2 linked regions of the Homo sapiens genome follow. The protein of the gene in region 2 interacts with the protein of the main gene of each other region in a pairwise test. Each region holds a gene or a part of one and is shown on either strand. Other genes may lie near its edges.

Region 1 (7,025 bases), on a different chromosome or scaffold from region 2:
ATCCACATTGTAACTTTTATATGCACTAGGAAACCAAAAAATTAGCGCAACTTTCTTTATTGCAGTGGTATAAAACAACCTGCAGTATCTCCAAGGTATGCCTGTAGTGTCATCCATATTATTTTAATTTCCTGGGACAGAATGATGTTCAAGTATTACTAGTGTGACATGAAATGTGTATACTTGTTCTTTTTTAAGTTTCTTTCTAAGATTCTCAGGAGATATTGGTACATCTCAACTTAACAGAAAGCAATACAACTGGCAATGACCATCAGATATGCAGTTAGCAAGAATCTAGAAGGGTAAAACTTTAAAACTATATCAAAAATAGATCTGGTTCCTTTATCTATAGTCCAGTATTATTAACAAAAACTAGGTAGAAAATACATAATTTTAACACAAAAATACCTAACAGTGATGAAGAAGCAAATACATTCAAAGCAAATGGGGCAATCAGAGAGAAAGCAGTACATGAAATATTCAGAGATATTTCAGACAATGTAGAAGTACCCAGTACTACAGCCAAAGTGCTCATACTACACGCATGCTTGGTTTTCTCCACAAAGTGTATGAACCTGCAGATCTATCCACACACTCAAGAGCATGGGTGCTAGAGATGCCCACTATAAACAAACTCAATGAACTATAAGGATTCTACTCAAAAGGTTAGTCAATTTGTAAAATAAAATCATATCCAAGAAGCATAATTTAACCAAACATTAATTTCCAAATAAGACGGACATCTTCTGAGAAAAAAACTAAAATACCACTTACCATGATGGTTCCTGGAGCTGACTCTGATGAACTCACAGGGCTTTGGTATGGGATCCTGTTATGCACAGAACTCTGGTCATAAGAGGAAGACATTGCTACTGGACTAGCAGAATTCAGTGATGAGCTTGTCAGACTGCAGGAGGTAATGACGGAAGTTGTATATGTGGAGTTCTGTACTGCACTGGTCATTGATAAAGATGTATTCAAAGGCTCACTGAAAAGAGTCAAAAATATTCAACATAATTTTGTTACTTTAAATAGCTTCATAAAAAAAAAAAAACATAAACAGCTTCACGAGATGCAACTACTGCATCAATTTATTATCCCAAATGAGACCCACCTAATTTAACTGAGAGATAGGGGGACATCTTTAAGAATACTTAGGCTGCGTGCGGTGGCTCACGCCTGTAATCCCAGCACTTTGAGAGGCAGAGGTGGGCGGATCCGGAGGTCAGGAGATCGAGACCATCCTTGCCAACATGGTGAAACCCCGTCTCTACTAAAAATACAAAAATTAGCAGGGCGTGGCAGTGGGCACCTGTAATCCCAGCCACTCTGGAGGCTGAGAAAGGAGAATCACTTGAACTCGGGAGGCAGAGGTTGCAGTGAACCAAGATCGCGCCACTGCACTCCAGCCTGGCGACAGAGCAAGACTCTGTCTAGAAAAAAAGAAAAAAAATAAGAAGATTCTTTAAGGAATCCAGGTGTTTGAGACCATCTTTAAAAAGGAAACTTAAACAAATATCAGGTTTTGCCTCTGGAATGTGAAAAAACTAAAACAACAACAACAACAAAGTCAGCCAGGCCGGTGGCTCATGCCTGTAATCCCAGCACTTTGGGAGGCTGATGCAGGCAGATTCATTGAGCTCCAGAGTTTGAGGCCAGTCTGGGCAACATGACGAAACCCTGTCTCTACAAAACATATTTAAAAATTAGCTGGGCATGGTGGTGCACGCCTGTAATCCCAGATACTCAGGAGTCTGAGGCAGGAGGATCATTTGAGCCTGGGAGGCAGAGGTTGCAGCGAGCCAAGCATGCTGCTGCACTCCAGCCTGGACAACAGAGCAAGACCCTATCTCAAAAAAAAAAAAAAGAAAAGAAAAGAAAACTAAAATCTGAGATTTTGTATTTATAAAATATTCCACTGAAGGAAAATGACTGCTGCAAACATGTGGAGAAATTAGATCCCTCATAGACTACTGGTAGGAATGTCAAATGCTACAGCCACAGTGGAAACAGTATGGGAGTTTCCTGAATGGTTAAGTTACCATATGACTCAGCAACTCTACTCCTGGGATATACATCCCAAAGAACTGAAAGCATGCAAAACTTGAAACCAAATGTCCATAGCAGCATCATTCACTATAGTCAAAAAGAGCAAACAACCCAAATGTCCACCAACTAATGAATGAATAAAATGTGGTATTATCAACACAATGAAATATTTGGCAATAAAAATGATACATTAAACATGGGTGTACCTCGAAAACTTACACTAAGTGAAAGATCAGACATAAAAGGCCACATATTCCAAGATTCCAGTTATATGAAATGTCCAGGTAGGCAAATCCAGAGACAGATTATTGGTTGCTAAGGGGCAGGGCAATGAAGAAACTGAGACTGTCTGCTACAGGTATGGGGTTTCTTATGGAGATGATGGAAGGTCTGGATAAACACTGAGGATAGCTATTACCACAGGATGTATTCTTTTCCACCAGTTGATCTCTCTTAGGGTCTATTTTGCTTCATAACAAAGGACTAAATTCAGTACCTTAAAGACTTCGAATACAAGCTGATGGGAATCTGATTACTATTTTCACTGCTTGGAGCTGATCCAAATTCAGAGAGAGAAGGTTCTGACCCAAATTCCAGAGCCCCAAACTGCACATTTAATCCTGTGACATCTGCTGAACCAGGCATTTCCACTGCAGAAGCTGGGATCTGAAAAAGCAAAGCTGTCGTGTCAGGAACAGAGGTCACAGATTCCAGGTCACAAAGGCCTATAACAGAGCCAAACAAGCATTTAGGTTCCCAGGCAATACTGGCAAGAAGAAGGAGTGAGAAACAAGGAGAAAATAGGCTAAGACTTTTCTAAAAAGAGAAAGAAAAAAAACAAGCTAAGAAAAATTAAAAGTTGGCTGGGCATGGTGGCTCATGCCTGTAATCCCAGGACTTTGGGAGGCCAAGACAGGAGGATCATTTGCACCCAGGAGTTCAAGACCAGCCTGGACAACACGGCGAGACCCTGTCTCATTTAAAAAAAAAAAGGAGAAATTAAAAGTTAAACAGGAATGGTTGGCATTAATATCACCACCTGCATCTAAGAGCAATGCGGGGGAGTTGTGATGGTGGGTGGGAAGTGAACACTGAGCTGACTACTCTATTTTTGGGGACTCACCAATGATGAAAGTATCACCTGGTCAAGGAACCATGCATCCTCCAACTATGGGATACAGCAAAACCCTCAAGAACAACAGTTCTCTGAGCCAGATCTTCAAATCTGTACTTGAAATAAGGATCTGTGGCTCTCAGCACAAACCCATTCCCTCTAATACTAGTCTGGTCACTCAGAAATGGCCATATCCTTATTATGCAATCAATAAGCTATGTGCTTGAAAAACACTGTACCCCAGTTTCCAAAACTTAGTATCCCACTAGAGCTGAATGTAAAAATAATTCCAGCTTTAGGACGGTGACTTCATGATGAAATGCCCACCTTAGAAGCTGGGGGTATCCGCCGCTTAGCAAGTTTGATGTGTTTGGGCTGTGGCTGGTGGACAGACACAGAGATATTTTCAATGGTCGTGCTGGGAAGCTGCAAAAGCTTGTTCACAGTGGAGGGACTGTCTCCAGGTGTTGATTCTCGAAGTTTTGCCTGGGAAGGAAAGGACTCCAAACCAGGAGGAGGAACAGTGACTGCCTGGCTCTGGTGCTGTTGTCGCTGGCTCAACTGGCTAAGAACTGGGGATGGCTCAGGTTGAGATTTGAAGTCTAAAAAAAGTAAGCAGCAATTAATGAGGCATAATGGCTTCACAATGTTCTTCAATAGAACATGAAGTGTTCTATTACCACCAATTTCTCCAAATCATTTCCAGTTGAATTTCTTAGGTTTTACACACACTATGTGTAACACTTCATTTATGATAAACGGGAAAAGTTCCTAAATGGGTACACACCTTGTTTCCTATCCAGAGAGATTTGGTTTATGTTTAAGCATAGGGAGTGATGAACTCGTGAGAACAATATTATGGTGCTATACACACCTGACCATTAGCTAACAGAGAATCATACTTTTATTATTTTATGGATTTTCTACATAACTGTTAAAAATTTGAGCCAGGCACAGTCACTCATGCCTATAATGCCAGCACTTTGGGAGGCTGAGGTGGGAGGATTGCTTTAGCCCAGGAGTACAAGGCTGCAGTGAGCTATGATTGCACCACTGCATTCCAGCCTGGATGACAAAACAAGACCATGTCTTCATCCAAAAATTAAAAAAAAAAAAACTTATTAAGTTTTTGGACTAATTGATATATATATATATATGATGTTACAAAATCCAAAAGATGGCTGGGCGCAGTGGCTCACGCCTGTAATCCCAACACTTTGGGAGGCCGAGGCAGGCAGATCACGAAGTCAGGAGATCAAGACCATCCTGGCTAACATGGTGAAACCCCATCTCTACTAAAAATACAAAAAAATTAGCCGGGTGTGGTGGTGGGCACCTGTAGTCCCAGCTACTCGGGAGGCTGAGGCAGGCCCTATGACGTGAACCCGGGAGGCGGAGCTTGCAGTGAGCTGAGATGGCGCCACTGCACTCCAGCCTGGGTGACAGACTGGGTGACAAACAAACAAACAAAAAACAAAATCCAATAGATACAAGAATATGTATGACGAATATTATGTTTCTCTTCCACACCACTCTCCCATACTTGCTCCACAAAGGCAAACACTGTACCCGGTTTTCCTGAATGTCTCTTTCAGAGATACTATATCACAATATATATAGACAGACAGACAGACAGACATATATATACACACACTATATACCTTACTGTCTCACAAATCATTTAATTTCCATTGAGTGTCTCACATTAATGTTCAAAGAGCTACTTCATACTCATTTTGGTGACTACACAGAAATCTAGTACACATAGGTATCATTTTATAAAACCAGTACTATATTAATGGACTTTTAGGTCAAATCTTATGCTATTAAAAGCAATGCACTAATGAATACATTTGTATGTAAGATATTTTGTGCAAGTACAAGTATACCTGTAGGATCAACTGGTAGGATAAAGTTGCCCCTTCACAGGGTAAATATATTTTGAATTTTGATAAATATTATAAAATTACTGTCCACAGATAGAACACATCCTTTTTAACACACTCTAATATCAAACACTTTTGAATCTCCTGGTTTAATTGGTGGAAAATGGTATTAAAAAATACAAACTAAAATGATACAAATGTGCTAAGTATCATTTCATATACTTAAGTGTTCTTTACTTATAGACTGTTCTTATCTCTTTAGCCAGTTTTTTAACCTGTTTGTTGATCTGCTTTATTTTTACTCTTTTTATATTAAGGAAATTAACTCTTTTTGTCTATGATACAAATTTTGAGTATTTTTTTCATTGTTTGTCTGCCTAATTTGGTGTTTTCTGCCATACCCAGAAAGGTCTCCCTCACACAGAACAACAAAAAAATTCTCCTGTGTTTTCTCTATTATAGTTCTAGATTCACTATTTATGTTTAACTATCTGACCCACTGGCATTTTGGCATAGAGATCCAACTTCATTTTTCAAACGGTTTTAATAAAGCGTTTTTTCACTACTGATTTGAAAAGCCAGTTCTACCATATGGGACAGAGGTTGGCCCTCTTTTTCTCTATGGGGCCAGATAGTACAACAACCTAATATTTTAGCCTTTGTGTCTCATCACGTTGCCCAGGCTGGTCTCGAACTCCTGCTCAAGCAATCCTCCTCCTTCTGCCTCCCCAAGTGCTGGGATTACATGAGCCACTGTGCCCAGCTAGCTGAGTGTCAACAGAATTTAATTTAAAAAAAAACAAATGGCAGAGCTGGTTTAGGCGCATTCATTTTTGAACTTGGTATTATAGGCATGCACCAAACACACAGGTTTTATAAAGAATATGGGAATAGCATGGTTCTATCTAAAAAGTCCTATCACTCACTAGTTATGTGTGCAGAAAAAGTTAATATAGGGACCTACAATTCCTCTCAAAAAGGCCTGCTTGATGACTGGACCTTGGCTAATGTCTGAGAATTTGGACTGCTGGTATGTACTTGGCAAAGGGTGCCAACACACTAACCTATTAAGAGTGGCTCACTGTGCTAAGAATGTCTGTATAAACAATGTGGTTTATGCTCAACATCTGCTTTCCTTCTAGGAATCTGTAATTTTGCTATGTGCTATAGCAAAAAATGTAGGCACAGGGTACCTACATTTCTTGCCCCAGCAAAAACTTTGGGCACTGAGTCTCTAATGATTTCCCTTGGTAGACATCGCTTCAAACCCCGGAGTGGTCTCATGTACTTCCAACACAGTAAGTCATTTCACAGAACAGAGGAATATGCTTCCCTGTCTCTCTATATGCCCTAACCATAAACCAGCCCACATGGCCAGCTCCACAATGAATGAAATCCCCTGCTATTCCTTAATACAGTGTGGCATGTGAGTGCTGGTGGGGAATGGTGGCTTAATGTCACAATTTCTGTGGGAGTTTAGTTTAGAAAACATCCAGTCTACACATGGGACCTTTACAATACAAACCACGGAATGTAAAGGTTGATGAAATCATAGTTGATACTTCAAAATGTTAGAATGAGAAAGCATGAGAGTGTGATAGTTAAAATACTGTCCAGGCCGGGCGTGGTGGCTCACACCTGTGATCTCAGCACTTTTGGAGGCCGAGGTGGGCAGATCACCTTAGTCCAGGAGTTCCAGACCAGCCTGGGCAACATGGCAAACCCCTGTCACATTAAAAAAATACAAAAAAATCAGCCAGGAGTGACGGCATGTGCCTATAGTCCCACCTACTAGAGAGGCTGAGGTGGGAGGATGGACTGAGCCTGGGAGGTCAAGATGGCAGTGACGCGTTACTGTGCCACTGTACTCCAGCCTGTGCAACAGAGCAAGATCCTGACTCAAAAAAAAAAAAAATAAAATAATAGAGTAAAATATTGTCTAGGCTGGATACAGTGGTGCACATCTATAATCCCAG
Region 2 (7,025 bases):
ATCATTGACCTTGGAAATGTTCTGAGTTCAATTTCCTTGTCTGAAAAATAGAGATAAAAGGAGTATCTACTTTACAGGGTGTTGTAAAGATTAAGTGAAGCAATATATGAAAAGAGCTTAGTTCAATGCCTGGCACATATCAAGTTTGACAAATATTAGCTATCACTATTATTAATGGGTGCCAGAAAAAGGACGAGGTGGGGAGTGTTGTCTTGCCCCAGGAACCCAGCTGGGCTCTGTGCCACCCCTGGCCCTTTACTCACCAGTAGGTTATCTTTGGTCCAGGCACAGCCAGTGACCCAGTCACGGTGACAGGCAGGGAAGGAGTGGATCAAAACAGGGGTTTTGGGTGTCCTCACGTCCCAGCAGAGGAGACTCTGGATAGGCCCCAAGGAGAGGGAGCAATCAGGACCAAAGGAAGGATGGGAACCCCGGAGCCATTTCAGGCAAGAAATTTCAAGGAAAGAGGGGCACAAGGAAGCACAGGCAGACAGATCTATACTAGATTTGGCAAAACAAAAAGCAGGAGGAAGCAATGGGAAATGGGTTGTTAAGAAATCTAGGAACTAGAGAGGCTATGGGACCCCAGGGTTGCATCCTTCTGCAGCTCACCCGATCCCGGCCCCCGGTGGCCAGGCTGCCTCCATCAGTGCTGAAACTACAGCAGCTCACAGGGCCCTCATGTCCCCGCAGCTCAGTGCCACAGGGAAAGTCTTCTGCCTTGTGTGGCCGCGTCAGCAGCTGCCTTGGCCACAGCTGCACTGTGAAATCCTCTGCATTGGAAAAAGAGAGAGGGAACAGCTTCCTGAAAGAGGAAGCCAGACAGGCCCTGGGAGGCCAAAGACAGGAGCGGCCATGGGGGCTGAGGGTGACACCTGAGGCTCAGCTCCATGGGAGGGATGCAGGGAGTCACAAGGCTGTGGAGAGGCCCTGGGCAAGGGTCATCAGCGAGTGTGTACATAGGACGGGAACGTGCGGCACTCCCAGCTCCAGCTCCACAGCTCAGGCCGGGAACACAGTTCCTTGTCTCTGCTTCTCTAACTGTACTCCCACAGCAGCTGCTCCAGACCCCTCCTCTTCTCAAGTGTCCAGTGTCACTTCCACCTCGTGACCTGTGAGGACCAGTTCTCCCTCCTAGAGAGGGCCTAGGCCATTCTACATTTTCACCTCAACATCTCTCTCTCTCCTTCTAAGGGAAACCTATCCCTTTTCACAGCAAAGTCTCCCACGGGGCAGAAACTCAAAGGATTACTGGGAGGTTAGAGGTCCCAGAATGAAGGTGAAGGAATGAGTGGAAACAGTCTAAACAGATTATGCAAGATAATTGCATTCAAAAGCACTTTGAAAGTTGTAAAACAAAATCGCACATGTGTATTTTCATACACATATACATACAACTTGGAGAAAGGTGTTAGTGTCTTTAAAAGGAACAGTGATTTGTGGGCCAGGCGCAATGGCTCACGTCTGTAATCCCAGCACTTTGGGAGGCCGAGGTGGGTGGATCACCTATGGTCAGGAGTTCGAGACCAGCATGACCAACATGGTGAAACCCCATCTCTACTAAAAATATAAAATTAGCCGGGCGTGGAGGCGCATGCCTGTAATCCCAGCTACTCGGGAGGCCGAGACAGGAGAATTGCTTGAACCCAGGAGGCAGAAGTTGCAGTGAGCCGAGACCGTACCACTGCACTCTAGCCTGGGCAACAAGAGTGAAGCTCTGTCTTAAAAAAAAAAAAAAGAAAAGAAAAGAACAGTAATTTGTTAACCCTGCCCACTGTCTAGTAGTACCTGAGGCAGAAGCCAAGAGCTCCTGGGAAGTGGCCAGTCCTAGCACAGGCTTCTGGAATCTGGACAGGAGCCAGAGGGACTGAAGGGAGCATTCCTTGAGTGCCCAGCCCTGCAAGGACCCATCTTCTGCACCACTCACCAATACCTTGGGGCTTAGCCAGGCCAGGGCGGACACTGCCACATCCAGTGCCTGACCCTGAGCCCCCTGGGAACCTAGAGAATGAGAGAGAACAAGGGAGTAAGACACTTGGGAAGGGGTAGGGGGCAGGGGCTGCGCTCTTTCTAAAGGCTCAAAAACCCACCCATTCCCATTTCAGTACCTGAAGAGATTTTGTAGATCCTAATGCCATCCGCTCGATATCCAACAGCCACCCGATCACCATCTGGGCTGAGTGCCACAGAGAGGGCAGGAGAGAGAGAAAGGGAACCCAGGTGCCCACGGGGCCGACCCAGAGACCCTGACCACACCTGAACCTGGGAACCAAGAAAAGGGCTTAAGGATACCACCTCCACCACGCGGTCCTCCTTCCTGTTTTGAGTTACAGCCACCCCCATTAAAGTCCTCCTTCCAGAGACTCTTCTCATGAGAGCTGCCCCTGCACACAGCGGCACCCCTCTCCCCGTGGTTCCTGCAATCCAAGCTCCTCCACAGTCTCCTCGACAAAGGACCCCCACCCCCACCAAGATATTCTTTGCCTTTGCTACTCCTCCTCACAACCCACCACCAGCCCTCTGCAAGCTGACCTTGCCATCCTCTCCAGCCGTCAGTAACTGGCAACCCGCATGCAGGAAAAGCGCAGCAGCAACAAAGCCATGGTGGGCAGGGAAGGCAGCCAGCCGTGCCCCTTCTCGCCAGGCCCACAGCTCCACCATACTGTCCAGCCGGCCCACAGCCACAACCCCCCCAGGCACATTGAAGGCCAAGGTACGGATAGAGGCTCCGGGTGCCCCCAGGTCCTACACAGGGAGGTAGAAATGGAAACGTGAAGACCTGCTCTCAGCAAAATCTTAAGTGACCCAGAATGCTGCTGTCTGTCGTCTGCCACCCTCCACTCCTGTCCTCCTGTGCTTCCCCCAAGAGCAACACTGGACCTTCTTACCTTGGTGACTTTGAGCCCATCCACCTGGAAGAAGCTGATGCTGCCAGCCCAGCTGCCTGTGGCTATTACCTGCCCCTCTGGGTGGAAGGCAACACAGTTCAGGGACTTGGGGTAGGTGTGCTGGAAGGCCAGCTGCCCACGGACTGTGTCCCACAGCTGAGGGAGAGAGAGGAGGAATCAGGATGCTGAAGAGAGATGCCTGAACTTCTCAGTCCCAGACCTCCAGGAGCAACCTTGTCCAGTTACCCTGCCCTCAGCAGGGAAGGCCTTCTCTGGCCAGGGAGTCAGCAGCCTCTGCCGCACTGAGAGAACAAATTCACGAGGGTGAGTCATGGCTCAGGGCCACTCTGACCACTGCAGACCCCAAGTCTTACCTTTAGGCATCCTCCCAAGCACACGGTGGCTAGCAGCCGGCAGTCTGGGCTCAGGCAGCAGCCAGTGATTTGGTACTGGTGAGCCTTAGTCTGCAGCACCCTATCCCAGGAAGATGAAGTCAGTCCTCTGGACCCTGGCCATCAGCTCCCTCCTCATTTCCTTCTCCTGGGGCTTCCAAAAAATGGGGAAGGCCCTCATTCCAAGACAAATGGGGAGGACCCCTTACCGACAACCATGCTGCAGGTCCCAGAGCTCCAGGAGCCCGTCGAAGGCAGTAAGAAAGAGTGTATCATCGGAGAGGAACAAACAAGCAGAGATTCCATCACAGCCACTCACCACAGACTTCTCCTCCTGCGACAGTGGGTGAGGGAGCGCAGCTCAGGCCATCCCCTTGACCCTCCAAGTCCCACCACTCCAGGCCCCACCCAAAAAGAAGGCCAAGGCACAAAGGCCATGAGTCCTTGGCTCTCTATGTTCCAAGTCAAGCACACGTTCAAGTGGGGGCCTCGTGATCCAAGTGGGGCCACATTTTCTCCCCTACTCCAAACCCCATACCTATTCCCCAAGTTACAGAAAATTTTGATGGGTCTGAGAAAATGGGGTTACATGGGGTAGGGGATGACATGAGTGTAAAGAGGATAGAAAGAGGCTGTGGTTCTAGGACTCACCTCTCCAGCCTAATGTACTATTAGCCTCCCATAAGCACGCTGTGCTGCCATAATTCCCAGCAATTTACAAATTTACCAGGAACATTCCCCTCCTGTGTCTTTGCTCAGGTTCCTTGTTCAAACAAGAGTGCCTGCCCTTCTCTATCCTATGTCCTCCTATAGCTGCACAACTCACTCATGTCTTAATTAGATTACATGGCTATGTTTTGGTTCCTTTTTTACCTCGTATGTCTTATCTCCCAACAAAACTGACCACTTGGTGGGCAATGACAATGTCCCAAATCCTGTGTTTCTTGCAACGCTTAGCACAGTGCCTTAAATGGAAGGTGTGCAGCAAATATTTGCTGTGTGATTGATTTTTTGGCCAAGCCCTTTGAGCTGATGTGCAGGCAGTAAAGTTGCTGAATTAATCAGAGTGATAACAGGTGTGTTTGGCTCATCTAGGGCTTCAGGGCAGTCTGCATGGATTTTCAGAGGGTAAATTCTGCCCCTCCTTGATTGTCATACCTGCCAAGTTCTCAGGTCCAACAGGTAAACTGTCCCATTGGCAGTGCCCACAGCTGCTCTTTGCCCATTGGTGGAGAAGGCCACAGCAGTAGGGGATGAGGAAACTGCCAGAGACAGGCTGGAGCTAGAGAAAGAGTAGGAAGAAAGGGAGGAAATAAACGAGAGAATGCAAACAGGAGTTGATTTATGTGCTTCTGTGCCTGGATCCCTCTCCAGTGTTTCTGGTCATCCTTATTCCTCAGTTTCAGAAAGAGCTGCAGCTTGCTCTCTGGTGGGCTTACTAGGGTCTGGGGTCAAGGTCTTACCTTTGCTGATTTTTCATGGTCCGGGGTTTATTAAGCCATCGTAGTGTGTGTTGGAGGTGCCATCTCCGGGAGAGCAGCGAGGCTTGGTGGCAAAGAGGTGAGTCCAGGGGCTGGTTGGCTGCCTGCTGGGGCAGGAGCCGGGGGTACTGGCTGAGGATTGAAGCCTGCTGCCTCAGGAAGGTGCGAAACACTGCAACGTCAGCCTCGGGGAGCTTTTGTTCCTCTTTGGGGACTGAAGAAGCTATAAAAGGGTGGCAGAATGTCACTGGGGAGCCAGCTGGACCCCATTAGCCCCAGCACCAAATAAAACCATATGGTGTGTCTACAATAGTAAGTCTCAAAGTGTGGCCCTCTGGCCCTATATCAGGAATATCTCTTAAAAGTACAAAGCTTTGAGCCCCACTCCAAACCTAGGAAACCAGAATATGGAGACCCAAGGATCTGCAATTTGAACAAGTTTCCTAGATAGTTTTATGCTAACTAAATAAAGTTGAAGAATCTCTGGTCCAAGAGATCAAGGTGAAAGGTCTCCTGAGAGTCACGTGCTCACCCTCTTGGCATTTTCAACTCGAAATGGAAATTTGAATCTTTTTTCCCTGACACCCACACCCCTGCCCCAACCCTGAGCAGGGCCCCCATAAGCACACCCAGGAGTCCCATATCTCAGAGAAGAACCCAGCCAGTGACTCATCTCACCATAGAGGGCATGGGCCTCCAAGAGCCGAGAGACCAGACCCAATTCCAAGTGTGCAGCCACCACATGGAGGTTGGTAAGGAACTTCGAAAGAAGTCCACGGTTCCCGCTCTGGAGCTGAGAAGGTCAGATTGAATTCATTAGGGATATGAAGGGGCTGGTGAGAAGGGACAGTTTAGTCTCAGAACCTGGATACAGAGATAGGATCTGAGCTGGGACAAAGGACTTGAAGAAGAAGGGCAGGAAAACTGAAAGGAAAGAGGTCAAGGGAGTTTGGGAGGGGTAATGGCGGCGGTGATGGTGGAGATGGTAACGGGGAGAGGGGTCTCAGAGCAACCAAAGCACTCACTTTGGGAAAGGTGTCTATGGGGTCTAGGAACTAACCAGGTGGTAAGGCAGGTCTCCCAGAGCCTCAGGAGGGCAACTTCGGAAGGTGCCTGAGGCATCAGCGTCACATGTCTTCCAGAGCTGAGCTGCATGAACAGATATTGAGAAAGGCTCAGCCCTGCATCATTCCCAAGGGCAGTAGGTGAGCTGGCCAGCAGATGGGAGCACAGTGGGTGGTCCTGGCCTCCAGGCCCAAGCCCCACACTCAGTGCCCAGGCTGACTTGGGCTGCAATCACCTGCAATGAGGATGTGTGCCGTGTCCTCTAGCCCTGGCCTCTTCCCATAGCAACGTTTAGCTGCTGTTCTCAGGGGCCCATCAGGGAGGCACAGCCGGGCACCAGGGCGCTCCAGAGGGCCCTCCCCTAGCAAACTGTCCTCGTGTGAGGAAGGGAGAGAGAAGAAGGAAGAGGCCTGTCAGTGAGCTTCCTGGCACACAGTGGGCTCCTATTCCCCCCTCAAATAGCGGAAACTGGAGCAGCTGGAGCAGTAGCTCATTCATGGTCTGGGAGCCAGTTGTTGAAGCTATACAGAGGGCCCCGGCTCAAAGAAGGGAAGGCACAGAGAGGTCAGCGGGAGCTCTGCTGGGGCACCTGTACCTGCGCAGACTCTGGACGAGGCAGGCAAACGGGCCCATGGGGTAGGGGTCTCCACTGTTACCAGCAGCCACTGCTTCTTCCCAGCTCTTAGTCCCCTTCGGTAGTGTCCGCCACACACTCAGCACTCCGTGCAGCTGGTCCACAGTCAAACCTGAAAACTCAAGCTCTCTGAGGCCCTCATCTAACCATACGGTGTCCCCGCCCCCACCACACCCAGTCTCTCCTTGAACTGCCTGCTGAGACCCCAAGGGAACCAATGTAATCCGAACCCTGGCCCTCAGCCTCCCAACCAACCCACCCCAAGCACTGACCACTCCGTGTGACTTCTAGGGCAGTCAAGGCCTGGGGAAGGACATCAGGCCCGTGCTCCTTCTCCAGTGTGCTCAGGATGTGCTGCAGCAGCAGGGGGACAGTGGCAGGCAGGGTCCGGAGTCTCTCAGACACCTAGGATGGCGGGAGGACAGCCTTGTTCAGTGCAGTGGGAGGAGAAGCAGCTTGGCTTGTGGGATAGGGAAGGGGCAGCAGGAGGACAGTGTGGAGGAATGAAAAAGTAAAGAACAACAGTAGGAGGGAAGTGAGGCGAGGTATGAGGCGAGGATAGGGA

What was found.
Region 1: the proteins of TEP1 (region 2) and UBAP2 interact in binary tests that used the Homo sapiens proteins (3 or more experiments, as listed by UniProt).

Annotation. Positions count from the first base shown.
Region 1 is NC_000009.12:33,940,875-33,947,899, forward strand, and holds part of UBAP2 (ubiquitin-associated protein 2), read right to left. Parts: intron 3,766-7,025; coding exon 3,491-3,765; intron 2,716-3,490; coding exon 2,546-2,715; intron 989-2,545; coding exon 775-988; intron 1-774. UniProt on the Homo sapiens protein: Recruits the ubiquitination machinery to RNA polymerase II for polyubiquitination, removal and degradation, when the transcription-coupled nucleotide excision repair (TC-NER) machinery fails to resolve DNA damage. May promote the degradation of ANXA2.
Region 2 is NC_000014.9:20,375,492-20,382,516, forward strand, and holds part of TEP1 (telomerase protein component 1), read right to left. Parts: intron 6,866-7,025; coding exon 6,733-6,865; intron 6,573-6,732; coding exon 6,422-6,572; intron 6,196-6,421; coding exon 6,062-6,195; intron 5,911-6,061; coding exon 5,822-5,910; intron 5,555-5,821; coding exon 5,440-5,554; intron 4,985-5,439; coding exon 4,744-4,984; intron 4,563-4,743; coding exon 4,439-4,562; intron 3,615-4,438; coding exon 3,490-3,614; intron 3,363-3,489; coding exon 3,263-3,362; intron 3,045-3,262; coding exon 2,889-3,044; intron 2,746-2,888; coding exon 2,533-2,745; intron 2,263-2,532; coding exon 2,109-2,262; intron 2,002-2,108; coding exon 1,789-2,001; intron 774-1,788; coding exon 613-773; intron 378-612; coding exon 264-377; intron 1-263. UniProt on the Homo sapiens protein: Component of the telomerase ribonucleoprotein complex that is essential for the replication of chromosome termini. Also a component of the ribonucleoprotein vaults particle, a multi-subunit structure involved in nucleo-cytoplasmic transport.